Homo sapiens: one gene and its partners. The protein of the gene in region 7 purifies or fractionates together with the protein of the main gene of each other region. This does not show direct contact. Each region holds a gene or a part of one and is shown on either strand. Other genes may lie near its edges.

Region 1 (3,500 bases), about 160 Mb from region 7:
CAGTAGTGTACAATGACGTATTAGGCCTTCACATTTACTCACTACTCAGTTATTCACCCAGAACAACTTCCAGTTGTGCCAGCTCCAGCTACACTAAGTGCCCTATTCAGATGTACCATTTTTTATGTTTTATACTGTATTTTTACTGTACCTTTTCAATGTTTAGACACACACCATTGTGTTACAACACTGTGCCTACAGTATTCAGTACAGTAACATGCCACACAGGTTTGTAGCCTAGGACGGTAGACTGTACCATCTAGCCCAGGTGTGTACTGAGCTGCTCCATCTGGGTGTATGTAAGCACACTTTAGGATGTTCACACAACAATGAAATGACCTAATGATGCATTTCTCAGAACCTATCCTCATCAAGAGTCATGTGACTGTACCAACTCTGTTCAAATATCATCTCTGAGGTTTTCTTTAGCCACTCCATCGTTCCCAACTTCCACTTCCACTTGCTTTATCAGTAGTAGTAGTATTTTTTTTTTTTTTTTGAGACAGGGTCTCACTTTGTCACCCAGGCTGGAGTGCAGTTGCACAATCATAGCTCACTGTAGCCTCAAACTCCTGGGCTCAAGTAATTCTACTGCCTCAGCCTCCCAAGTAGTTGGGACCACAGGCACAAGCCACTACACTAGGCCAATTTTTTAACATTACTGTAGAGACGGGGTCTTACTATGTTGCCCAGGCCAGTGTTATCCTGGCCTCAAACGATCCTCCTGCCTCAGCCTCCCAAAGCTCTGGAATTACAGAGGTGAGTCACTGTGCCCAGCCTCCACCTGCTTTATTATTTCTCTATGTGTCTTGTTTTTCTTCCTCTACCACTAGAACATAAACCCCCATTTGTGCAGAAACTTTTCTTTGTGTGTACTATAACCCCAACTCTCAGTGCAGTGTCTGGCACACAGAAGGCACTTAGGACATGTTTGTTAAATGATGGAATTCTCCTCAGTGCTGTGTCCTCCTCCCCATCATTGATTCTCCAAGAAGGACAAGGGCATACAGTATAATCAGCTCCACTCTGGAACACTTGCTTGAAAATAAAAATTTGTTCCAACATTGTCAATACATCAAGGAACAATTTGACCAAAGGCAAATTCCCATTTGCTTATGTGGGATTTCATAGGCAAGAAATACCAGGTGAATGCAGAAAACTGCACCCACTGACTGGAGCCACCAGGATCCCATGAAACACAACTCAGACACCTACCAGCTCAGTCCATTCATACCTGGGCCACACATTGTGCCCCTCACCTGCTATGACCCAAAGGCTCCAACCCCACTGCACTGCACCCTCCCCAGGCCCACCGTGCTCTCCAATGCTCTGTATTCCCCTCTGCCTTGCTTGCCTTTTTCTCCTCTGTTCTACCTCATTTTCTTCCTCTTACACACAGAGGGGCAGGTGTACCTTGGGAGCACAGGCACCTACTCCCAACTATAGAATGTAAATATTTTTCAAGGTAAAGTGCCATGCTTACTATAGTATTTATGCATTTCTTACTGATTTAACATATAAAATTATGCTACTGTTTTATTAGGTTCCTGTTTTTAACATGTCACTGGCAAAATTTTTTAGTGTTGTCCCTCTAACTCCATTTTCCCCATAATCTCTCTGGGTTATTTATTTATTTATTTATTTATTTATTTTAACCAATTCTGCAGAGTGCAGTGACTGTTGGTAATGCATGTGTGGGATTACAGCAGAACTAACTGTACTTGGAAAGATCTACCTGATAGGCCCCAAACTGATTTAAATTCTTATCAAATTGAACTATGGGAAACCATCATTATTATATAAAATGGCATTTCTGTCATTCAACTTGATGAAACCACGTGATGCACAATCCTACACATTTTCATTTTTACACGTAAGAGCCACACGGTGACTAGGTACTAAGCTGAACTGTTAAGTGTTAATAAAGCTTATTGATAAACTAGAGTTAATGCCTCATTAGTATAAGGACTAATTCAGTATTCTCCTGAGATGTCTGCTGGCTTTCCAGCAACACTGCAAAGGCTGGTTGGCACACAACGGGTGGCTGGAAACAACGCACCCCAGAAGGGCACCTGTCATTGTGGCCACCAGTGTGATTTTGAGTTGCTATTTTTACCTCTGATTTTCAATTTAGTTTTCTGTGATTTTGTTAACATTATGGTATGCACTTTGCAACAACAATCTTTTAGACTTTAAAATATGTATGTACTGCATTTCCAATACAATCCATATACACTGCTACTGCTAAAGCAGACATTTATATATTATCTAACTAATTTGCTCTTATAAACACTTCTATGGTGATGAGATGCCTATGAGTTTGCGATTATTTTTAAGTTTACAGGATATCATTTTATAATACCAAAACATGTTATAAGCTCATTTCTCTTATAAAGAAAAATGATTTCTTAAATGTTGCCAGTAACAAATTCATTATTAGATTCCTCTAATTCTTTGTCACTAATTTGATTTTCACCACATAATAAGAACAAGTGAGACAAGTGTGCCAAGGGTCTCCTGCCCCAAAGATACTTTCGTATTTCAGAGTCAGTGCCTCCAATGCTGGCTTCCTCAGAGATGTGTCCTAGGCCCTTTTATCTGAAACTCTACAGAGATAACTGCAGGCATTCCCATGACTTAGGCTTCCATGCCCAACCTGTCTCTAGCTCAGCCCTTTCCCCTGGTATCCAGACGTGCATGTCTGACTACTGGCCATCCGCTGGTGCACATCCCACCACCAGTCATCTGGTACCTCCAAAATGGAGCCACATTCTCCCTTGAATCTGCCCTCTTCCCACGTTCATGAGCTTGCTGAATGGTACTACACAGTCAGACGCCTGGGCCCTTCCCCACCATATCCATATCCAATCAGTCCAATAGTGCCATCACTTCACTACCAAGCAGCTTCCCATTTCCAGTTCCTAATTCAACCATCATTTTGAAGAGCACAACCTAAGAGGTTAGCCTTAAATATGTCCCTTTGACATATTTCTCACTTGTAGTCAGAGGAATATTTCCAAAAGGCAAACCATATTTTTCTCCTTACCTCTATTTTGTCCACTAGTTCTCTCTCCTTCTCTTTTGTTCTCTTCCTCCCTTGCCTACAGCTCGCTCCCTGCTTCAAGCACCCACCGTTCTCAAGATAAAGTCTGAATTCCTTAAAATGGTAAAGACTCGTGTAGCCTAGCCCCCAGCCTCATCTTCTGCCTTCCTGCTGAACTTCAAGTTCAAACACAACAAACCTTCTCTAGTCTTCAGAGTGACCTTCTTTGTTAGATGGGTCCTTTCCCCCAACATCCCTCTTTGACTGGTTAACTTCTGTTTATCTTTTACATCTTAGCGTAGCCCACCAGCAGGTAGATTTGAGTATAAAGGGTTTTGTTTTCTTCTTTCAAATAAACATTGGTCGCTAAGGATTCACTGAGATAACTATGTTTCTTTTGGGGACATAATGACTTTAGAACATATTTCATATTCACAGTCAAAAATCACAACAAAAC
Region 2 (3,500 bases), on a different chromosome or scaffold from region 7:
CAAAATATAAGACCAACGCAAAAACACTGACCAGTGGGTTATCAGTAAGAACGTACATACAACAACCTGCTACTTACTTTCTTGACCACTGAAAGATTTGAATCACCGTCATCTATAATCTTTATTAGGTAGTCCCTGGTCTTTGTCAGATAATTTCTGCATTCTTCTTGTTCTTCAGGAGAAAGGGCATCATTTTCAATGTCTTCTGCCTTCCTGTGAAAAATCTATACAAATAGTGCTTTCATGAAATCATTAGCTTTTTAAAACAAAAAACTTTCAGCTTGGCCACGCATGGTGGCTCATGCCTGTAATCCCAGCAACTCGGGAGCTGAGGCACAAGAATCGCTTGAGCCTGGGAAGCAGAGGTTGCAGTGAGCCAAGATTGTGCCACTGCACTCTAGCCTGGCCAACAGAGAAACCCCGTCTTTTAAAAAAAATAATAAATAAATAAATACAACTTTTAGCTCAAGTACTGCATCTACTTACCAGTGCAAGATTCCAATAAGAAACAACACTTTTTATAGATTCAAAAGCAGTCACAGCATCTTCTATATTTCCATTTACTGCATCCAATATAGCAAAAGTTATGTGTGCGTCTTCTTCATATTCAACAATTTCTGATGCCTAAACACATAGAATAGTTTTTAGTCAAATTGTTTATACTCAGAATATAAAACCCAAATGATTTTCCAAAGATTTTATATGATCTTAAGAGACAAACATCTCATTACTCTTCTCTGTCATATCTTATCTGTGAGAGCTAGTGAATTTAGAAAACAAGATTACCGTTAAATAACAAGGCAATTAATTTAAGCAGTTTATAGCTCCACGTCTTTGTTTATAAACTGGAAATTCCCATCTCCAATAAATTCATAAAGGAACTCTGTTACCTGAATGTCTACACTATGAAAATGTTTAAACAGAGGATCAATAGGTTCAGGAATACTGTTCTTCTTTATTATCTTCAACAATGGCAAAACTTTCTTCCAATAATGAACACTTCTCCCTATGTATTCTAGTTGACCATAAAAAGAATTAAGACCGCTGCCCTAAAAAAGAAAGTTAAAAGCACACAACTTTAAGGAACACGCATGATTAGATCTAAAGTTCATTTACAAGTTGTAAGAACTGGCTAAAATTTCAAGTCAAAACCAAATGGTACCTCAATAGTCATTTGTTCAACTTCCAAATACTGTAATAACTAAACCACCTTAATACCAGTGAACTCACTGCAACCTCTGCCGTGCAGGTTCAAGCAATTCTCCTGCCTCAGCTTCCCAAGTAGCTGGGATTACAGGCACCTGCCACCATGTCTGGCTAATTTTGTAGTTTTAGTAGAGTTTTTTTTTGTATTTTTAGCAGAGACGGGGTTTCACCGTGTTAGCCAGGAATGATCTCGACCTCCTGACCTTGTGATCTGCCCGCCTCGGCCTCCTAACGTGCTGGGATTACAGGTGTGAGCCACCGCACCCGGCCTCTACACTCAACTTTTAAATGCTTCTAATGATACCACTCTAACGTAGCAATCCAAACTACTTTTTAACAGTTGTCCTTTTTAGATAGCTGAAACCTGCCTCTTCTGTAGTGTCAGTTTGTTCAAAAGGCTGACCATCTACACCTAATGGTGACACAAAACACACCTTAAATATTTAGAAAGATCTATAATGGTCTTACCTACAAAGCCTTGTGCTAATTTTTTTTTTAATTTTCAGGCTGAATAATTATCAGAACTTAATTATTAAGGAATAACAGTAACAGCTCAGCTAATATGTAACATTCACTGTGTGCCAGGCATTGCTCCTCTAAGTGCTTATATTTAACTACATTAACTATTTTGCAGCAATAAAAAACACATCTGTCATAATATGACCAAGCTGCTGTTTTCAGAACAAAAAAACTTTCAATAAAAAGTTCATGATTTTAAAAAATTAAGGTAATGTTCATTAAAAATGCTTATACTTTAAAACTCACCGTTTTCTGAAGGTATTTTGCCCAATGTACAAGCAGAGCAGGTTGAAGGCCATGTTTTTCCTGGGCTCTTAGAGTGTTTATTTCATGCTGAACTAGAAGTCTCAATTTTGCCAAGTTTCCAGGTCTAAAAAATAGTTCAATTTACTAAAATTGCTTTCTAAATACACAGTTCAGCGCTTACATACATATATGTTAATGGGTCACATGACAAATTAAATCTTCACACGAGGATTAAATCCCCGGTAAAACCTACGCACTAAGTGAAAGCAATATTTTTGTTTTACTACTTACACTGCTTTTCTGTGAATCAGAGTACAAACCGCATCCCACCAAGATTTTTGTCTTTCTGTACAAAGCTGTTTACACACAGGAAAGGGCAGGCATAACGGCTGATAGGAGCTATGGTGAGAATTACATTTCTCCTTTAATTGTAAGTGGCTGGTATATACTACTCCAAGGAGAAATACCTGTTTCATTTAAGGAAAAGTTAAGTTAGAAAAAAAAATTAAACAAAATTCAGAATATTTAATTTGTTAAAATCTTTGCTTACTTCAAGATCTAAAATACATATTGATTCAGGCGCATTTGTTTCAAGCCTTGAGGTTTCATGGGGCAAACGATGGAAAAGCTGTTTTAGCCATTTTCGGATTCCAGGTAAAGCAGGCAATGAATTCCACTGTAAGCCAAGCCAAGTAAGATGCTGAAGACTACCATTATGTGCTCGAATAGCACCTGAAATAAAATTTAAAAATTGGCTTAAGGGTTTGAAATTTTTCTTTGTGCCATTAGTTTTGCCAACATAAACAATTCACATTATATATATCTTAATTATATAACTGCTTTTCTATATCAAAGCTGGAGGGAATTCTATGTTAGGCAAAATCTCATGTTCTTATTAAATGCATTCTCACTTGATTATTTCTAGAAATTTTAATAAAAATAGTAGTGATGAAGAATGTTTAAGTCCATCTTAAAAAATGACACTGACTAGAACTCAATAAACCAAAATCAACTGACAAAAGCCAAATAAAGAACACCTAACCTAATAAGAAACCCCAAAACAATGGGTTTTGCTTTAAGTCATTAAAGCAATGGAACACCACTATATTAATCCATCGGTACAGTAAAGAAATCTGTTTTTCTACAAGAAAGTCAATATTGAAAATGTTATGCGCAGTCAGGAGTTCGAGACCAGCCTGGCCAGCATGGTGAAACTCCGTCTCTACTAAAAATACAAAAAATTAGCCGAGCACGGTGTCACATGCCTATAGTCCCAGCTACTTGGGAGGCCGAGGCAAGACAATTGCTTGAACCTGGCAGCCGAGATTGCGCCACTGCGCTCCAGCCTGGGTGACAGAGCGAGACTCTGTCTCAAAAACAAGAAAAGAAAAGAAAAGAAAAGAAAAGAAAAGAAAAGGTTATGCGCTTCTGGAAGCATGAAGAGGTATAATCTTTCTGTCATTTTGGCAATTTGCAAGACTTAAAGATGTTCATGTCCTTTGTCTCAGTAATTCTGTTTTTAGGTATCT
Region 3 (4,239 bases), on a different chromosome or scaffold from region 7:
GGCCAGGAGTTTGAGACAAGTCTGGGCAACATAGAGACTCCATCTCTAAAAAAAAATTTTTAGCGTTTTTCCCTCTCAGGCCCTGCATTCCAAAATGACAAAGAAAAGAAGAAACAAGAGTCATGCCAAAAAGGGTAATAGCTATGCGCAGCTTATTCTCGCCCAAGGACCGGACCATTAAGAAGTTTGTCCTTTGGGCCGGGCGCAGTGGCTCACGCCTGTAATCCCAGCACTTTGGGAGGCCCAGGTGGGCAGGTCACTTGAGGTGAGGAGCTCAAGACCAGCCTAGCCAAGAGGGCGAAACCTTGTCTCCACAAAAAATACAAAAATTAGCCGGGCATGCTGGGGCACTCCAGTAATCCCAGCTACTCGGGGGGCTGAGGCCAGATAATTGTTTCAGCCTGGGAGGCAGAGGTTGCAGTGAGCCGAGATCACGCCACTGAACTCCAGCCTAGGCGACAGAGCGAGACCCCATCTCAAAAAATAAAATAAAAATAAAGGTCCTGCCCTCAAAAACATTGTCCTGTGTCTGCGGCATGACTTTCAGACAACATGGTTTTTCAACGTCCCACCAGGATTTATGTAGGTGAAAACCTGTTTCCGATAATCTGAATCTCAAATCCATTCTGTTTTACATATAAAAACAGTTTGGCGGAGGGCATGGTTTTGATAGACCCTGAATTTTCGAGGAATGCATCAACCATGAAAACAGAACACAGATCGAACTTTTACTGGGAACTTTACTAAGTTCACTGAAAAAAAAAATCATATTACCCATAACAACATTTGTAGCTTTACATTCACGATGGATATATATGCGTGTGTACGTCTGTACTTAGGTTTTGTTTGTTTGTTTGTTTTGAGATGGAGTCTCGCTCTGTCGCCCAGGCTGGAGTGCAGTGGTGTGATCTCGGCTCACTGCAACCTCGACCTCCCAGCTTCGAGCGATTCTCCTGCCTCAGCCTCCCGGGTAGCTGGGACTACAGGCGCCCGCCACCACGCCTGGCTAATTTTTGTATGTTTAGTAGAGACGGGGTTTCACCATATCGGACAGGTTGGTCTCAAACTCCTGACCTTGTGATCTGCCCGCCTCGGCCTCCCAGAGTGCTGCGATTACAGGTGTGAGCCACCGCGCCCAGCCTGAATATTGTTTTTCTTATCCATACTTCACTGTAAGCAGATGGAAGCATCTGTCTGCTTCATTATGTCTGCCAGTGTTGAGTACCTGAGTATTTTCATATTGAAATATAGCTTTAATGATACATTACTTCTCTCTTCCTTCTTTACATAGCGGTTAATCATATTGAGCTTCTGAAATTGTGCGCGTGGGCAGATTAGCCATTTTTGGGTTCCCTCTTACCCCCCGGACTAAGCCGGGACGGAAAAAAAATGTGAAGGGGGCGTTCCCGATCGATTTGGCCCCGCCCCATAGTGTGCCCAGAGCCTTCTGCCACACTTAACATGGCGGCGGCGGCGCCCTGCCGAGGCGCCTGAGCGGGTCGCGAGCGTGGTGTTACACTCCAGTCATGGCGGCCCGACAGGCCGTGGGCAGCGGGGCTCAGGAGACATGCGGTCTGGATCGGATTTTGGAGGCATTGAAGCTGCTGCTGAGCCCGGGAGGTGAGAGGACGCATCTCCGCGCCGGGCTGGACCCGGGACTCTCAGGGCCGCCCGGCTTCCGGGGCTGCCCTGCCTTCCGCAGCGTGCGCCCCTTAGGCCCGCCTCGGGACCCTCCGCCCGCTGCTGGGGGCTTTGAGCATTGTCTATGCCCGTCCTCATTACGTTCTTGAGGAAACTGAGGCTCAAGGAGGGCGCGGGATCCGTTGACTGCTGATATTAGCCAACATCTCTTGAGCATTTGCCTTGTGCTGGGCTCTGTCAGGCGGGGCCGTTATTTCATTCAGTGCTTACTGCAGCGCTCTTGGGAGGGGGATATGGACCCAGCTCCAGAGAGGGTAGGGCGCCCGCGACGTAGAAATGTGAGGTCCTAGCCGCGTGAGGGCGCAGGGGCCAGCATGGACCCTTGAGATTTGTACGAAATGCCAAGAAGTCCAGACATCGGAAGCAGTGACGTTTGAAATGGGTTTGGGGAGAGTATTTAGGGGTTACCAGGCGCTTTTAATCTTTGTGGTGCGTGGACAGTTTCTTCCCAGTCTAAAATCTGAAGGGATATTGGGAGTGGTTGAAGCTGCTACTCCTTTTGCGACTGAGGACACCCAAGGCTCACTGAAGAAATTAAGTAACCTGTCCAAGATCACGTGGTCAAATTAGGGGCAGAACACGGACCTAGGCCCGAGATCTACTGAACCCCCTTCTCAGAATCAGACAAATTGTTCAGTATAGGGGCTCTGATGTTATCTGGAGCTTTTGGAAAGGACGTGGAAGATAGAGCTCTGCTTATCACTGGGGTGTATATTTGGGGGAAGGGATGGGAAGGGATCTGTAGAATTAGCAAGGGCACATGAAAGGCCAAAGGGGATCACCTCCCAGTCTCAGATTTTATACTTAAAACTGCAAAAACTTCTGCAAACATTACACCACACCAGCGGGAAGTGAACACAAGTTACTAATATTAGTAAATGAGTGCCTACTAAGTATCAGTCCCCATAGTAGGCTGTTGACATACACATCATTTAATCCTCATTACGATCCCCTGGGATCGGTACTACTTGTATTCAATTTTTACGGATGAAGGACCAAGGTTCAGGTACATTGGAAATTGCCCAATGTCAGACTAGTAAGTGGCAGAATTTGAATTTAGGTTATTTCCACTAAAAGTATGGTAAATATGCTACATTGTCTCAATTAAGAGTCAGACTGCAAAATAGAATTTTAAGTTGCTAATCGAGAGGTCACTTGTCTTCTAACGGCAACTCTTTTTTTTTTTTTTTTTTGAGATGAGGTCTCACTCTGTTGCCCAGGCTGGAGTGCAGTGGCACAATCTCGGCTCACTGCAACCTCTGCCTCCCAGGTTCAAGCGATTCTCCTGCTTCAGCCTCCCGAGTAGCTGGGATTACAGGTGCACACCACCATGCCCAGCTAATTTTTGTCTTTTTAGTAGAGACGGAGTTTTGCCATGTTGGCCAGGCTGGTCTCGAACTCCTGACCTCAAGTGATCTGCCTGCCTTGGCCTCCCAAAGTGCTGGGATTACAGGCCTGAGCCACTACACCTGGCCTGCAACTCTCTATTGTATGACTGAGAACACGTTTAAATAAGCAAAAATCCTGAAAGTAATCATCTGTTATGAAACATGTATATTATGCTTCATTTATAGAAGACTCTCTAATCTCTATGAGTATGTGGTGGAGTACACATATATGTACTCATTTAATTTACAGAAATTCAAGCATTCCTATTTGAAGAGGAATTAGTTCGTGAAATTATATTATTTTGTACATGTAGTCTTATATATTATATGAATCTGTCTACTATTTTATCATATTAGCTGCTTAGGGAATTTAAAAATATCTGTAGTGGCTGGGCGAGGTGGGCCATACCTGTAATCCCAGCACTTTGGGAGGCTGAGGCAGGATCCCAGGAGTTTGAGACCAGACTGGGCAACATAGTGATACTCTGTGTCTACAAAAAACTAAAAAATTGGCCAGGCATGGTACTACACACCTGTGGTCCCAGCTACTGGGGAGGCTGAGATGGGAGGATTGCTTGAGCCTGAGAGGTCCAAGTCTAGGCTGTGGTGAACCATGATTACACTAGTGTGCTCCGGCCTTGGGTGACAGAGTAAGACCCTATTTTGTTTTTTGTTTTTTGTTTTTTTTTTGAGACAGAGTTTCACTCCATCACCCAGGCTGGAGTGCAGTGGCATGATCTTGACACACCGGAACCCCCACCTCCCGGGTTCGAGCAATTCTCATGCCTCAGCCTCCCTTGTAGCTGGGACTATAGGCACCCACCACCATGCCTGGCTAATTTTTGTACTTTTATTATTTTTTGAGATGGAATTTCGCTCTTGTTGCCCAGGCTGGAGTGCAGTGGCGCAATCTCAGCTCACTGCAACCTCCACCTCCCAGGTTCAAGTGATTCTTCTACCTCAGCCTCCCGAGTAGCTGGGATTACAGGCATGCGCCACATGCCCGGCTAATTTTTTGTACTTTTAATAGAGACGGCGTTTCACCATGTTGGCCAGGCGAGTCTCGAACTCCTGACCTCAGGTGATCTGCCTGCCTTGACCTCCCAGAGTACTAGGATTAGGATTACAGGCGCGAGCCACCATGCCCAAC
Region 4 (3,500 bases), on a different chromosome or scaffold from region 7:
ACTTCCTATCACCCAGGGGGCTTTGTTCTTTGCTGCGTGATGTCCAGTGTTTTGAAAAGTGTTTTTCATAGGTTTTATCCAGTTTTTTTTTATTGTTTGAGGCAAGAGGGTAAATCAGCTTGCTGTTATTCTATCTAGGGTGGAACAGTGACTTGCTTCCAATGAACAGAATGTGGAGGAAGTGACAACATGTTACTTTTGAGACTAAGACATAAAAGGTATTTTGGCTTCTTCATTGCTCTCTCTCTCTTTTGGATCAGTCGTTCTGGGAGAAGCCCGCTGCCACAAATTAAGGACATTCAAGCAGCCCTTTGGAGAGATCCAAGTGGTCAGGAAACAAGAATTTCTGCCAACAGCTAAGTGAATACGCCATCTTGCAACTGGATCCTCCAGCCTCAATCAAGCTTTCAGATGACTGACATCTTGGCTACAATCTCATGAGGGACCCCAAGCCTGATCTACCTAAGCCACTTATGAATTCCTAACTCATAGTAACTATGAGATGATGTTTATTAATTTAGACCACTACATTTTGGGATAATTTGTTACACAGCAATAAACAATGAATAGAGGTACCAAATTCTGCTCAAACTGTAGAAAGGATCAGTTGAATTTCTTAAATAATTTTATCCTTTTCCCATCCCCAACCCAGCCTAAGTAACAATGCACAGACAAAATCCCCATACTTAGCACTGGAGCATTTATACTCAAAACTTTCCCTGTGTGACTTTTGTCAAGAAATAAACCATGAGTTGTTATAAGCCTAAGGTTCTGTCAAAGCAACCAGGGTATGTTCTAACTCAAGAAGCATGAAGTAATATATATTATTTTCATTCTTTATAGTATCAACAGAGATGTTATCTTTCCACTTCCAATGAGGGAAACTAAGGCATTAATAAAAAAATAGATTTCAGTCATATATTACATTCATAATTCAGCAATGGATTTATGAAATTTCCTCTTTTGGAAATCTTAAATAAGACTTATATCCATTTGATAACGTATATTAGCAGCAAGGCTACCTCAAGGAAGGAGATGCATAGAACCTCTGGAAGTCTTTCTCTTCACTATGATTCTGAATTTTATACAAGGGAGAAAGGGAAGATTGAAATTTTGAGGAGGAGCATAGATAATTGTTTATGTATGAAGGAGCTTTGTAAAGACACTGCCCCTGGCCCAGCCATTGCCTTCCATAACCCTAGGGGGCAGTTTCACCTGAGTCTATGTGGAATGTAGAAAAAATATTTTCATGTTTTTGCATAGTTAGGGCTTTCTGAGCAAAGAAAACTGGTACCTGGGTTAAAGGGCAAGTCTTGGAAGTTAAAAGATGATTGAATAGTCAGAGACCTCAGAAGAGATTTAGAGGCTTCCCTCCTTGTGTGTTTACATTTCAAAGGGCATAAAAGGAGTCAGTTGTTTACATTTCAAACATCTGTCAATGCCAAGGTTTCTCTCCCTCTCTCTGGAGTGGAGCTTGTAGCCTATTTATACTCCCAGATTAATAATTTTGGATTTTCTCTTCAACAGTACACACCCCTATATATGCAGGATGCCCTCTGGCTCTCATGGTGTTACTCGGGGGCTACTGTGTGTGGAGAAGTAGTGCGGTTATTGTTATAAGTATTAATAACTGTGATCTCTATTCCAGAAACCTTACCACTGTATTTGCTTTCAGGGTAAAATGAATAAATATAGATATACTTACCACAAAAGGGAGGATGCACTCATGCTGATCTTGTACCATGTATAAACTGAACAGGGACATGCGGCTGGGGCCCATCAAGCTGCAGGCTAGAGAGAAGAAGTTCTGCAGAGCCTCACAGAGGTTGGTGCAGATGTCAGCCCAGGACGGTAGAGCAATGTGCACAATGAGAAGCCGTGGAGGTTGCTGGTCAATCTGAGTGTGAGTAGAGGGCCCTTTACCAGTAGTTCGCCCAGGATGCATGGCAGCAAAACCAGAGGGGGAACTGTAGCCACCAGCTGGATATTCTTTACACCTATAGGGAAGGAAAGAGAAACCACTGGTTTTCAAACTGAATTATGTGTGCTCTGTTGAAATATAAAATACAAGTCGAGGGAAACAAATCCAGAAAGGAGTCAGATTGGGTACTAAAGCTTGTCCAGGCCATCCTATTTTTTTTTTTTTTTTGAGACAGAGTCTCGGTATGTCACCAGGCTGGAGCGCAGTGGTGCGATCTTGGCTCACTGCAACCTCTGTCTCCCAGGTTCAAGCGATTCTCCTGCTTCAGCTTCCCGAGTAGCTAGGACTACAGGTGCACACCACCACGCCCAGCTAATTTTTGTATTTTTAGAGATGGGGTTTCACCATGTTGGCCAGGATGGTCTTGATCTCTTGACCTCACGATCCGCCCGCCTTGGCCTCCCAAAGTGCTGGAATTACAGGCGTGAGCCACCGTACCTGGCCCAGGCCATCCTATTTTAACAGCTCCCAAGAGATCTAGATGTTTGCCTATCATGTAAGCCTGAGAATGCTTAGAGATGCTGAGTGGAACTAATCAAAAGTTACACCAAAAAACTCAAGCTTCTGTCTCAAAGTAAGCTATCTGCCCTCATAAACTTTGTTTCTTTATTGGCATTTATTGCACTCTATTACAATTTGTTTCTATGACTGCCTCTCCCACTATATTGTAAGCTTCCCAAGGGTAGAGAACCTGTCTTGTTGATATTATTCATCAATGCCTAGCATATGTGTGTTTAGTACCTAACGAATAATTCTTAAAAATGAAAATATGACTACATTTCTCCTTGGTTAAAATTCTTTGGTTGTCTGAATCTCTTATAAGGTAAAATTTAAACTGTCTTTAAGACCTGTCATTACTTAATTGTTAGCCTCATTAGAAATTGTTCTTCGCCTCAAGATTTTCACGGAAACAATACCAAATATATTCACTTTAGTGCATTTGCTCATGCTGCTTCTCTGCCTCCAATACTCCTGCCTTCTTTCTCTACTGGCTACTTATACTTATCCCCAGGACTCAGATTAGGAAGTGAGAACAATTGAGAACAAAGAACCAATATAAGGAATGAGAAAGGGACATCATCACAAATGCTCAAACGTGAAAAGGGTTATAGGAGGACATAATGAATAGCTTTATGCTAATAAGTTTGATAAAGTGGACAAATTCCTAGAAAAATGTATCTAACCAATACTAAAGAAATTTTAGAAACCTAAATAGTCTATAATCATTAAGGAAATGTAATTGGTAATCAAATATCTTCCCACAAGTAAGAGGGTCAGATGATTTCACTGATGAGCTCCATCAAACATGCAAAGACCAAGAATTTCAATCTTTTTTTTTTTTTTTGTAGAGATGGGGTCTTGCCATGTTGCCCAAGATGGTCTCAAACTCCTGGGCTCAAGTGATCCACCTGCCTCGGCCTCCTGAAGTGCTGGGATTACAGGTGTGAGCCACCGCGCCCAGCCAAGAATTTCAATCTTAAACAAATTATTTTAAGAACAGAAGAACATATATAACAGG
Region 5 (3,500 bases), on a different chromosome or scaffold from region 7:
ATAAAGACTCTATGAAAATATAAAGCCCAAAGTCAGTGACAACAGAAGTCCACATATAAATGGTGTTTAAAAATAGAAAGTCTTCTAAAGCTTCTCATGAGATGTCAATGAATAGTCATAATCTTAAGACCTTATAAATCAAGGTTAAGTTATACACAACTATGCTGATTTACATACCTTCTACAATGTCCAACTGACATACATAATTTACAGACACCCATAGGAATTCATAATGCCCTATCATATCATCTCTCAATACTGGATGTTTATTGTTTTATAGTTTTACTACTTTAAGTACCAAGAAGCCTTTTCAGAGGAAGAGTTCCATCTCTTCCCTTGATCCCCCAAAGTATAGGTAACAAAATATAAAATTAAACAAGATTTATGTTTGATAAACTAACATATAAAATTACCATTGCAATTTTCATAGTGACTGCTTATAAACATAACAGTCATCATAAAGCCTATAAAGTATATACTTAGTTTTATAAAAGAAATGCAGATTGTCTCAAGGTAAAAAATACAGTGCTGGCTGCTAAAAAGCACTTTGTCGCAATAAGATGTGCAATAATGAGCAAAACTTCAGAAAACATGAATATGTTCCCCAACTTTTAATATTAGTTAAGCAAGAATTGCACTGCAGCAGCAGGATGCTTTTTAGTGGCTGACACTATAAAGCTAACGTTAAGAAAGAAAAAAGGCAGAAAGTGTGAGCAACAAATGGTGTAACCAAATTATTGCAAATGGAGATTAGCAATAAGAAGTGAGGAAGGTGACCGTCCACTCCATTCTGATAAGACACCATCTTTAAATATTAAGTTTTTTGCAGGAAGTGGAACACCCATGTCAGCACACGATGACTGTGAAAGCAAACTTGAAAAACTGGGCTCTGTGTGAATATCCAATATTGAAGCACCTTCCTAAAAGATCAAGAAACAAGAGAAATGATATTCAACACTTTACCAAAACCACTTAATATAACTAATGAGAAAGAGAGACCTTGATTACCTGAGAAGTGTTTATGGATTGCAAAGCAGTACAGGAGATGCAAAGATCTACACTGTGAGCCCAAAGCAATCAATGACAGGTATTAATATGTGCAAAAATGACTAACAACGTTAAACTGTAGTAAGTCCTTTTAAATAGAAATAAGAGGCTACGAGACTGTGGGAAAAGCAAAAGTTCATTTTTACAAGACCTAACCTAACCCCAAAGTATTACCTAACAGAAGAAAAATCTCTAAAAAAAAAAAAAAACTTACAAAGGCCAGGTGCAGTGGCTTGTGCGCCTGTAATCCCAGCACTCTGGGAGGCTGAGGCGGGTGAATCACTTGAGATCAGGAGTTCAAAACGAGCCTGGCCAACATGGTGAAACCTCTTCCTACTAAAAATACAAAAAAATTAGCTGGGTGTGGTGGCACATGCCTGTGATACCAGTTACTCAAGAGGCTGAGGCAGGAGAATGGCTTGAACCCAGGAGGCAAAGGTTGCAGTGAGCCGAGATCGTGCCACTGCACTCCAGCCTGGGCAACACAGCCAGACTCCATCTCGGGGAAAAAACAAAACAAACAAACAAAAAAAACCTTACAAAACACTAAGCACCAGAATAATCCACCTACTCCACGCTTCTCAGATTCATATATTCCGCACAGACCTCCCCCCAGGACTCCATGCTCAAACATCCACCTATCTGACACTTCATTTCAGATGCTTCCCCATGCACTCTATACTCAGTATGCCCATCATTGAACTCTCAAATTTTCCCTCCCCTCTTCCTCCCCAGTCTTCTCTATTTCACACATCCAGCTAATCAAAAAACATAAGAATCATTCATGATCCCTCCCCTCCCTTCCCTCCACAGCCCTAATCTTTTCCTCACATTTAATTCATCATCAAGTTTTATCAACCTATCTCCAAAATATATCCCAAATTAGTTTAATTTATTAATTCACTATGGCCAAGGCCTTCACTGCCACAACAGACAGGCCAGTATTGACAGAATTTTGAAATTTTTCCATTTATTGCATCCTTATAAAATTTCCATTTTTGCCTATTTTTATAAAATAGTCCTTCAGAAATAACCTCTCTCCCCTGTTTAAAAGTCTTTAATCATTTCTCTTTGCACTCAACGTAAAATACTAGTTCTCTAACATATGCCAGAAGGCCCTGCACACCGTGCTCCGGCCCTCTTCTTCAACCTTACCTCTTGCTTCTACCCCTCTTTCATGAAGTTTCTGCCACACTGGGCTTCATTTGTTTCTTTGTTCACTGGACATTTCCCAGACACAGGAAGTACAGACCTAAGCTCTGCCGGAATATTCTTTTCCAACTTTTTGGCTTCAGCTTATATTATCCTGCACCTATTGAAATTAGGTCTACCTGCAGATTTCATCATAGTTGGCTTCTTCAAAGTACTTTTTAAAATCTTTTAGAACTTATATATCTTAATATTTATCTGATTATTGTCTCCCACAACATTCTCTAAGTTCCATTAGTATCTTACACATCACTGTTTCCACAGCACTCAGCAAAGAATCTGGCATAGGTCAGGGTCAAGCATTTACCAACTGAATGAATGAAGTAAAACTCCAAAATATTGATTTCATAACGTTGAATTAGATATTCTGAACAGAAATATTCTATTTTAAAAGTTTACCTATAAATCAAGTCTAGAATATTCTTTCTTTCCTTGGGGATGGGGGAAAAACAAGAAGTCCAGAGCACTGGCCTTCGCTGCCACAACAGACAGCCCATCCCAGCAGTGGAGAATCGCTTTAGTTATTGGGAAGTGCGCTATAACCAAAAACTAACACCTAGCATGGCACACAGCCCATAAAAGACACTTAACACATTTCTGTTGAATAAAGCACTGGCACAGAACAAAGAGATCAAGCTTTGGTCTCCGAAGACCTGGCGAGTGAAATGTGCAAGTCCATTAACTTCTTGAATCTCAATGTCTTCATTTGTACAATAAAATTAATGTTTATTTCATATCTTGCTGCTGTGGTGACTCAAAAACAAACACAGAAGTGTTGTGCATACTTAAAGCTCAGTACAAGTACCATTTGGACTTTTTGGTTTTTGTTACCTGGAATGAGTGAACAAAGTTAAGGACTTGCAGAGAGAGTTTTCTACTGGAATGTAAGAGGTTTTGAAGGCTGAAAAAAAAAAAGGCGAGAAACAGTTTAAAACAAACATAAAGGCAAGAATGAGTTTCTCATAAGAGTTTAATTTTAGCAATTTAAATGCATCTATATATCCTGGCCAATCACAAAACATCTTAAAAAACAATTTCAGTGTTTCTCATCAATGAAATTTTTGCTTGTTTTAATAATAGGGAGTAGTCATGCATTAAAAGTCCATTTTGAAATAAAATACATCGTGTAACTAAAATCAAAGTTATTGTTTTAAAAAAATTCAACTACTATAAACATAAATGTTAAATGAAAGAAAACTTTTCAAATGAAGATTTAGGCACTCTGAGGAATGACAACTATGACA
Region 6 (3,500 bases), on a different chromosome or scaffold from region 7:
AGCTTATATTCAAGTGAGGTAAAACAGGATAGATTATCTTGCTAACTAGTTCACAAACTCCTTGTTGGCAGGAACCACATAGGGTGGTGCCTTGTATATAATCTGTGCATAGCATATGTGTGTTCCAGCTTGTCAGATAACCTCTTGAACGTCGTCGTCATATAGAGACCTTCATTTAGGTTTTGCACTTATTTCACTGTGGTAACACTTGGTGCCTTCTCCCACTGGCTGTCCTCTCACAGCCTTTGTGATCTTTGATCTTGGAATGCTTGTTTTCTAGCAGTTGAAAGCTGAATTGAATTTTTAAAAGTTCCTCTAGTGCATGCTGAAGATTTTATTAGCTTGCTGCGGCAGTTCCATTTTAGTTCCTCTCATAGCATCCTCTCATTGAGAGCTGTTATCCATTTTGTGCTCTTGAGAAGCTCCGTGAAATTATATTGCAGTACCAAAGTATAGGTGTGATTAACTGTGAACTGGAATCAGTGTGGCCATTATTTTATCAGCTAAATGGATGAAGTGGTTCATTCTTGGCACGTAGTAGATACTCAACAAGTATTTTTACATTGACTGAAAATGTTATGTGTTTTGATTCATGGTTATATAATAAGCAGGACTTGATCACTACTGGGTAGTTTACACAGTATGGTCTGAGCCATGTTGCTCTACTACCATCACTTATTTTCCAACTTCTCAAAATATGTACATGACAAGGTTGTGGTTTTTTTTTTTTTTTTTTTTTTTGCCTGTTTTGTTACATAGTCCTGTGTTAGGATATTACCTAGGCAGGTTTCAGCTCTGAGTTGGCTTTGCAGCTCTTTGCTGGGGCATAGTCTATCCTAATGTTAGAATTAATGTTTGGTAGACACAGGGTCTCACTCTGTTGCCCAGACTGTAGGCCGTGGTGCTATCTCGGCTTGAAACCGGGAGGTGGTGGCTGCAGTGAGGTGAGATCACACCACTGTACTCCAGCCTGGGCAAAAGAGTGAGACTCGGTCTCAGAAAGAAAAAAAAAAAAAAGAATTAATGTTTATAGAAGGGCTCATGAATTTCAAAACTTGCTTCCTGTGGTACACGGGAGAAACTCTAGTACAAGTTGAGGGGTGCCATTAACCAGAAAGATGGTAAAGAGAGAGGGGGCAACTTACAAGTATGTTTATATTGTTCTGAGAGAGGTTGTGGCTGTTGCACAGCTTAGAATGGGAAGGAAGAGACTGACTTTACATGCCTTCAAAAGTAAGATCTTAACTTTGGCAGAAATACTATAATTTTCCAATATAGAACACGTCTGTTTTCAATATAAATGTAAAAACACATTTAAAAAAAACCAGCCCTGTAGGATTTAAAACGTATCTCCATTCTTGGTTTTCTGTAGTATTTGTCATATATTGTTTAGAGTTAATCATCCTGGCTTTTGATCAGAAACCCAGAAATACACAGTAACCCCCTAATTCCCCAAACACCTGTCTTGAGATTTTAATTCTTGCTGCAAACAGCATTTGTTTCCCAAGGCTTCTCTAGAATGTGAATTGTTCTTTGAGATATCCCAGGGAGGAAGATTATTAAAAGGTTACTCCTTTTCAAAAGTTGGCATTGCAATTTAGAATGGTTACAAAGTTTATCAATGAAAATGAACTTGATGCCTGAGCTATAATTGAAATCTTTATAGCGTCTCTGCTGTTTGTCCATTGTGTTACAGAGCATTCATTGAAAACTTCTTCCATTTCTGACATGTCCAGTTCCCACCCCTCAAAAAAAAATTATGAAAACTACAAAACTTCAGAACATCATTTGAAATAATTGTGTAGGGATTAGGCACCGAAGAGTTTAGAACAGCTGCGTTACATTAAGCTATAATTATGGTTACTTTTTCTTGCCACACAGGAGTTTAGAAATTTGTGGTTTTATTTCTTAGGCTATTTTGTTTCTGATGATTGTCAAATTTCATTTGAGACAATATTGCCCTGCATTTTAATATTTACTTAGCATTTTTTCTCTTTTTGAACAGTTACATAACTTAGATAAACTGTGTGTAAATGAAAGTTACAGATAGAGTTTTAAGTGGAATATGTACTTTATTCAGATTTTTATTATTTGAGATGATGATTTATTGAACATAAGCAATGGAGACTTTTCTCTCATCTGTCATTAAATGAATGTCTGGATTAGCTTATAGGAAGTGCTCACAGTAATAAAGCTAAATATAAAGAATGAGAATCAAGAATATATAAAGACCAGAAATGAATACATCAAAACCTGTACTATCAATAAAGTTCTAGTCTCCGTGGTCAGTGTCTTAGACATGAGGACTGCTTTAATAACTGCAAGATTTCAGTGACTCAGAGCAAGAAGCATCTGTTTCTCACCTATGTGGAAGCTTATGTTGGGGTCGTCATGGGTTAGGTGTCCACATGGCTGTTCAGGTGGTCAGCCTTTTTCCACCTTGTGACTTAGCCTCCTATAGGAACTGGGAACCTGCTTGGTTCAGGCAGTGGGTGGAGAATGAGGACAGTCCTGTGGGAGGTTTTTATAGACCAGCACACATTGCTTCTCATCCTACTAGCCGTACTCAGACATGGCCTCTCTTAGCTTACTTTAGGCTGGACACATAGCAGAGCTATACGCCGCAGGAGAAGAGAGGTCATGGGGACTGGTAGCATAACTAGTCTCTACCCCAGTCTGACTGGAACTTGTGTGAGCATCCTGGTGGCCACAGTGAAAGGAAATCATCCTCAGCTCTATGCTGTCATTTTCACCATGCATAAAGAAGATACCAGTTTCTTTTCCTTAATATGTCCCCCATTTCACACTTGGGGCTTTGAATTGGTTACATTGAAAGGTGTAGTAGGTGATGTGCTCAGTGGCATTCATGTGGTACATTGAACAGTGGTTCTTGTTTGGCTGTTTATCATGTCCTTAAATAAAGTGAAAGTACAACAATCAAAAACAATTCTGTGGAGGATCAAACTGACATGGTTTATTATATATTTTCTAGTTGTGAGAATAAGCACACTTCATATCCCTCAAACAGTCATTCAGGAATATAAGTGATCTCAGGTGGATTTTTTGGTGAAAGATGTATAGAAGATAGTTTGAAGTTACTGTTACAGATGCGCTTGGAGTGCCAGTATTTTGTCAATTAAAGGTGGCTTTAGAGACCGAGAGAGATGGTTGGTTAGTTCAAAATCAGTATCCTGCATGGCAAGCTTGTTCTAGATCAGGGGTTGGTAAACTACAGCCTGTGGGCCACATCTGGCTCTTTGCCTGATTTTGCAAGGAAAATTGTATTGGAATACAGACGTGTTTGTTCTTTTATTTGTCTGGGGTTGCTTTAGTGCTGCAAGGCAGAGCTGATATAGGGGTAAGTGGTGGCAACAGAGGCTAACTTACACAGTACGACATATTTGCTATCTGGCTCTTTACAGTAAAAATTCCTGACCCTTGTTTTGGAGAACATATTTTCTGCCTTTTCTGATGGGGCTCACATTGTAGTAGGTGAGAAA
Region 7 (3,500 bases):
CTGTGGGACAAAGACATGAAGCTTTTCTGGGTCATTCTGATGGTCCCCAGGGCTCCGCATCCCTCCCAGGGCAGGAAGCATGTCAGGGTCATCCTGCCCACTCCCCCACCCCAGAAACAGTCCAGCTTCATCTGTTTGAGCTCCAGTCCTCCCCGTTTTTCTCATTAGGTCTCTGCCTTGGTTATTGAGGTATAATTTAGATAGTAAAATTCATCCTTTTTAGTGTAAGGTTCTGAGTCTTGACACACGCATACATCACGTGGCCATCACCATAATCATATAGAGGGCGGCTCTCTACCCCTCTACCGGCCACCAAACCTTTCTCCTTAATCCACTCCTCCCCATCGTGGGTGTTGGAAGCAGCTGTTCTTTATCATTCACTCTGCCTGTCTGGCCATCTTTTGGCGGGAGGGTTGTCTAAATTCCCTAGGGTACTGTTACAGGGAGCAGCCACTGTTGAGATTTGGGGGTTGATAGGGGTCCCCTGGCTGGGGTGGGGTGCCATCCCCTGGGTGGCATGTTTCTTTGTCCTGGCCTGCTTTCTGGGTACAGCCTACACTCCACAGGCTTCCCCAGCCCCTGAGGTCCTACAGTGGGGTCTGGGGACAATGTGGCCTGCCTTGGCCCTGGCCCTAAAACACAGCCGGGGACCCCGTGCCTCTCAGGCTTGGCCTCTGCAGCCTCAGCTCTCCTCACCTCCCCCACGCCGTACACGGTGCGTCTCACCTGTTATGGCCTCTGACCTGTTGGTGCCAGGCCTGTGGCAGCTCAGAGACAGCACCAAGTCCCACAAGGGTCACTCCAGGGCTTTCCACCCCCTCTGCTTAGTGGACAAACTGCTGTTTTCCCCAGCCCCACACTTCAGAAGGTGCACGGGGGAGCCCTCGGGAAAAGGACATGCACTCGGGAAGGTTCAAAAGCAGGTGGAACTCAGAGGGTATGCCAGGTTGCATTTGTGGGGTCAGCTCAGCCTGGTTTTTAATTTTTTTTTAGAGATGGGGTCTTGCTTTGTGACCCAGGCTCAAGCGCAGTGGTGCGATCATAGCTCCCTGCAGCCTTGAACTCCTGGGCTCCTCTGCCTCAGCCTCCCAAGTAGCTGGGACCGCAGACACGTGCCATCACACCTGGCTAATTATTTTGATTGTTGTAGAGATGGGGTCCTGCCATCTTGCCCAGAGAGTAGCATGCTTTGGATCACTGTACTGGTTTCCTGGGACTGCCGTAACAAAGTACCACAAACTGAGTGGCTTAGGGACATTTCTTGTCTCACATCGCTGGAGCCTGCAGTTCTTAACCAAGGTTTTGGCAGGGCCACGTGGTCTCAGAAGGCTCCGTGGAGGGTGCTTCCTGGCTGCCTCCAGCTTCTGGAAGTTGCTGGCAATGCCCAGCCCTCTGTGGCTTCCAGATGCACAACTCCAACCTCAGCCTTTGACTTCCCGTGAGCTTTACGCCATGTGCCTCTGCGTCTCTTCTAAGACTCCAGTCACTGGGTCTCCTTCATGACCTCATCTTAACTGGATTACATCTGCACAGATCCTGTTTCCAAACAATGGCAGGTTCCGGGGGTTAGGACTTCCACCTGTCTTTTTGGGGGACATAGCCTGATCCACAACAATCATCACTGTCAATCATCATCACCTCATTAGCATCATTGTCAATCAATTACCCAGCTGCTCAGGAGGCCGAGGCAGGAAGATTGCTTGAGCCCAGGAGGTGGAGACTGCAGCGTGAGCTGTGATTGTACTCCAGCCTGGGTGACAGAATGGGATGTTATCTCAAAAACAAACACAGGGCCAGCTGTGGTGGGTCATGCCTGTAATCCCAGCACTTTGGGAGACCGAGGCAGACGGATCACGAGGGTAGGAGTTTGAGACCAGCTTGACTAACATGGTGAAATCTCCTTTCTACTAAAAATACAAAAATTAGCTGGGTGTGATGGCACGTGCCTGTAATCCCTGCTACTCAGGAAGCTGAGGCAGGAGAATGGCTTGAACCTGGGAGGCGGAGGTTACAGTGAACTGAGATAGATAGCGCCACTACACTGCAGCCTGGGCAACAAAGCAACACTCCATCTCAAAAAAAAAAAACAAAAAAACACACACACACAGAACAACCTCCTTGTCAATCTGTTCCTTTTAATGGTAGAACTCCTTGGAAAACACTTCTCCGGTGTGCCTCTGTGCCGCAACCCCTCTTCTCTACACTAACTCTGAGACCCTCTCCGGGTTTCCTGGGCCCGTGGTGGCTGCTCTGCCCCCTTCCCTCCCTGGGCTTCTGGTTTCCCGGCTTTGATGCCATCGTGCCCAGGTTCAGCCCCTGGGCCTCTCCTGTATCTGTCCACACTCATGCTCCGGGGAACCATGCTAACAAGTTACACAACTTGCTAGCTTGGATGACCCACTGTGATCTCACAGTGCTGTGGGTCAGGAGCGCCCCCACTGCCCAGGCTAAAGTCAAGGGTTGGCTCCAGGAAACTCCAGGGAGAATCCATTTCCTGCCCTTTCCAGCTTCTAGAGGCACCCGTATCCTTGGCTAATGGTCCTTCCTCCGAGCCAGCCCTGCAGTGCCCTCAGGCCTCACGTTCTCACCCAGACCCCCTGCTGCCTCTAACGAGGGCTTTTTTTTTTTTTTTTTTTTTTTGAGATGGAGTCTGGCTCTGTTGCCCAGGCTAGAGGGCAGTGGCGTGATGTCAGCTCATTGCCACCTCTACCTCCTGGGTTCAAGCAATTCTCCCGTCTCAGACTCCTGAGTAGTTGGGATTACAGGCACGCACCACCAGGCCCGGCTCATTTTGTATTTTTAGTAGAGATGGGGTTTTGTCATGTTGGCCAGGCTGGTCTCGAACTCCTGACCTCAGGTGATCTGCCCATCTTGGCCTCCCGAGTTGCTGGCATCACAGGTGTGAGCCACTGTGCCCGGCCTTACCGAGGGTTCTTGTGATGGCATCAGGCTCAGCTGGCTGCTGCAGAAAAACGCCTCCATCCCAAGATCTTTAATCATCTGCAGCCCCTTTGGCTGTGGGGACTCACAGGTCCCAGGGCTGAGACGTGGACTCTCTGGGGCTGTCGCTCAGCTGCTGAGGTGGCTTCTCCTTCCTGGGGCTGCAAGCGCCAGTCTTGTTGGCCCGGCTGCCTCTCCAGCGTCCCCACTGGGCTGTCCATGGCCTTTGACTTACCATGTCCTGATCTCCAAATGGCCCTGGCTGTCACTCCACATCATGCAGTACTGTGTGCCCTCAGGTCACACCAAACGCTGGTGGCCCACACCTGACTTGGGAAGGGGCAGGGCCCAGGCAGAGGAAGAGGATGACGGGGTGCCAGCCTGAGCCTGGAAGATGGGGGTCCCCGGCTGCCTCCTGACCCCATCCTCTGGCCCTCTCCCCGCAGACGGCATCCTGTCCTTCTTGAAGAACAACAAGCCAGGGGACGCGCTGTGTGTGCTGGGCCTCACACTGTCTGACCTGTACCCCCATGAGGCCTGGAGCTTCACCTTCAGCAAGT

The links.
Region 1: the proteins of AMZ1 (region 7) and NCAPG2 purify together in Homo sapiens (affinity purification with mass spectrometry; one large-scale study listed by BioGRID and IntAct). This does not show direct contact.
Region 2: the proteins of AMZ1 (region 7) and RGPD8 purify together in Homo sapiens (affinity purification with mass spectrometry; one large-scale study listed by BioGRID and IntAct). This does not show direct contact.
Region 3: the proteins of AMZ1 (region 7) and TANGO6 purify together in Homo sapiens (affinity purification with mass spectrometry; one large-scale study listed by BioGRID and IntAct). This does not show direct contact.
Region 4: the proteins of AMZ1 (region 7) and M1AP purify together in Homo sapiens (affinity purification with mass spectrometry; one large-scale study listed by BioGRID and IntAct). This does not show direct contact.
Region 5: the proteins of AMZ1 (region 7) and FAM91A1 purify together in Homo sapiens (affinity purification with mass spectrometry; one large-scale study listed by BioGRID and IntAct). This does not show direct contact.
Region 6: the proteins of AMZ1 (region 7) and WASF3 purify together in Homo sapiens (affinity purification with mass spectrometry; one large-scale study listed by BioGRID and IntAct). This does not show direct contact.

The regions. Positions count from the first base shown.
Region 1 is NC_000007.14:158,698,305-158,701,804, forward strand, and holds part of NCAPG2 (condensin-2 complex subunit G2), read right to left. Parts: intron 1-3,500. UniProt on the Homo sapiens protein: Regulatory subunit of the condensin-2 complex, a complex which establishes mitotic chromosome architecture and is involved in physical rigidity of the chromatid axis.
Region 2 is NC_000002.12:112,399,146-112,402,645, forward strand, and holds part of RGPD8 (RANBP2-like and GRIP domain-containing protein 8), read right to left. Parts: intron 2,704-3,500; coding exon 2,522-2,703; intron 2,439-2,521; coding exon 2,263-2,438; intron 2,096-2,262; coding exon 1,972-2,095; intron 1,050-1,971; coding exon 891-1,049; intron 625-890; coding exon 487-624; intron 225-486; coding exon 78-224; intron 1-77.
Region 3 is NC_000016.10:68,842,092-68,846,330, forward strand, and holds the start of TANGO6 (transport and Golgi organization protein 6 homolog), read left to right. Parts: upstream 1-1,439; 5' UTR 1,440-1,526; coding exon 1,527-1,620; intron 1,621-4,239.
Region 4 is NC_000002.12:74,638,331-74,641,830, forward strand, and holds part of M1AP (meiosis 1 arrest protein), read right to left. Parts: intron 1,998-3,500; coding exon of another isoform or gene 1,946-1,997; coding exon 1,706-1,945; intron 1-1,705. UniProt on the Homo sapiens protein: Required for meiosis I progression during spermatogenesis.
Region 5 is NC_000008.11:123,809,939-123,813,438, reverse strand, and holds part of FAM91A1 (protein FAM91A1), read right to left. Parts: intron 3,158-3,500; coding exon 3,088-3,157; coding exon of another isoform or gene 3,049-3,087; exon of another isoform or gene 2,778-3,048; intron 921-2,777; coding exon 735-920; 3' UTR 1-734. UniProt on the Homo sapiens protein: As component of the WDR11 complex acts together with TBC1D23 to facilitate the golgin-mediated capture of vesicles generated using AP-1.
Region 6 is NC_000013.11:26,564,183-26,567,682, forward strand, and holds part of WASF3 (actin-binding protein WASF3), read left to right. Parts: intron 1-3,500. UniProt on the Homo sapiens protein: Downstream effector molecules involved in the transmission of signals from tyrosine kinase receptors and small GTPases to the actin cytoskeleton. Plays a role in the regulation of cell morphology and cytoskeletal organization.
Region 7 is NC_000007.14:2,705,202-2,708,701, forward strand, and holds part of AMZ1 (archaemetzincin-1), read left to right. Parts: intron 1-3,386; coding exon 3,387-3,500. UniProt on the Homo sapiens protein: Probable zinc metalloprotease.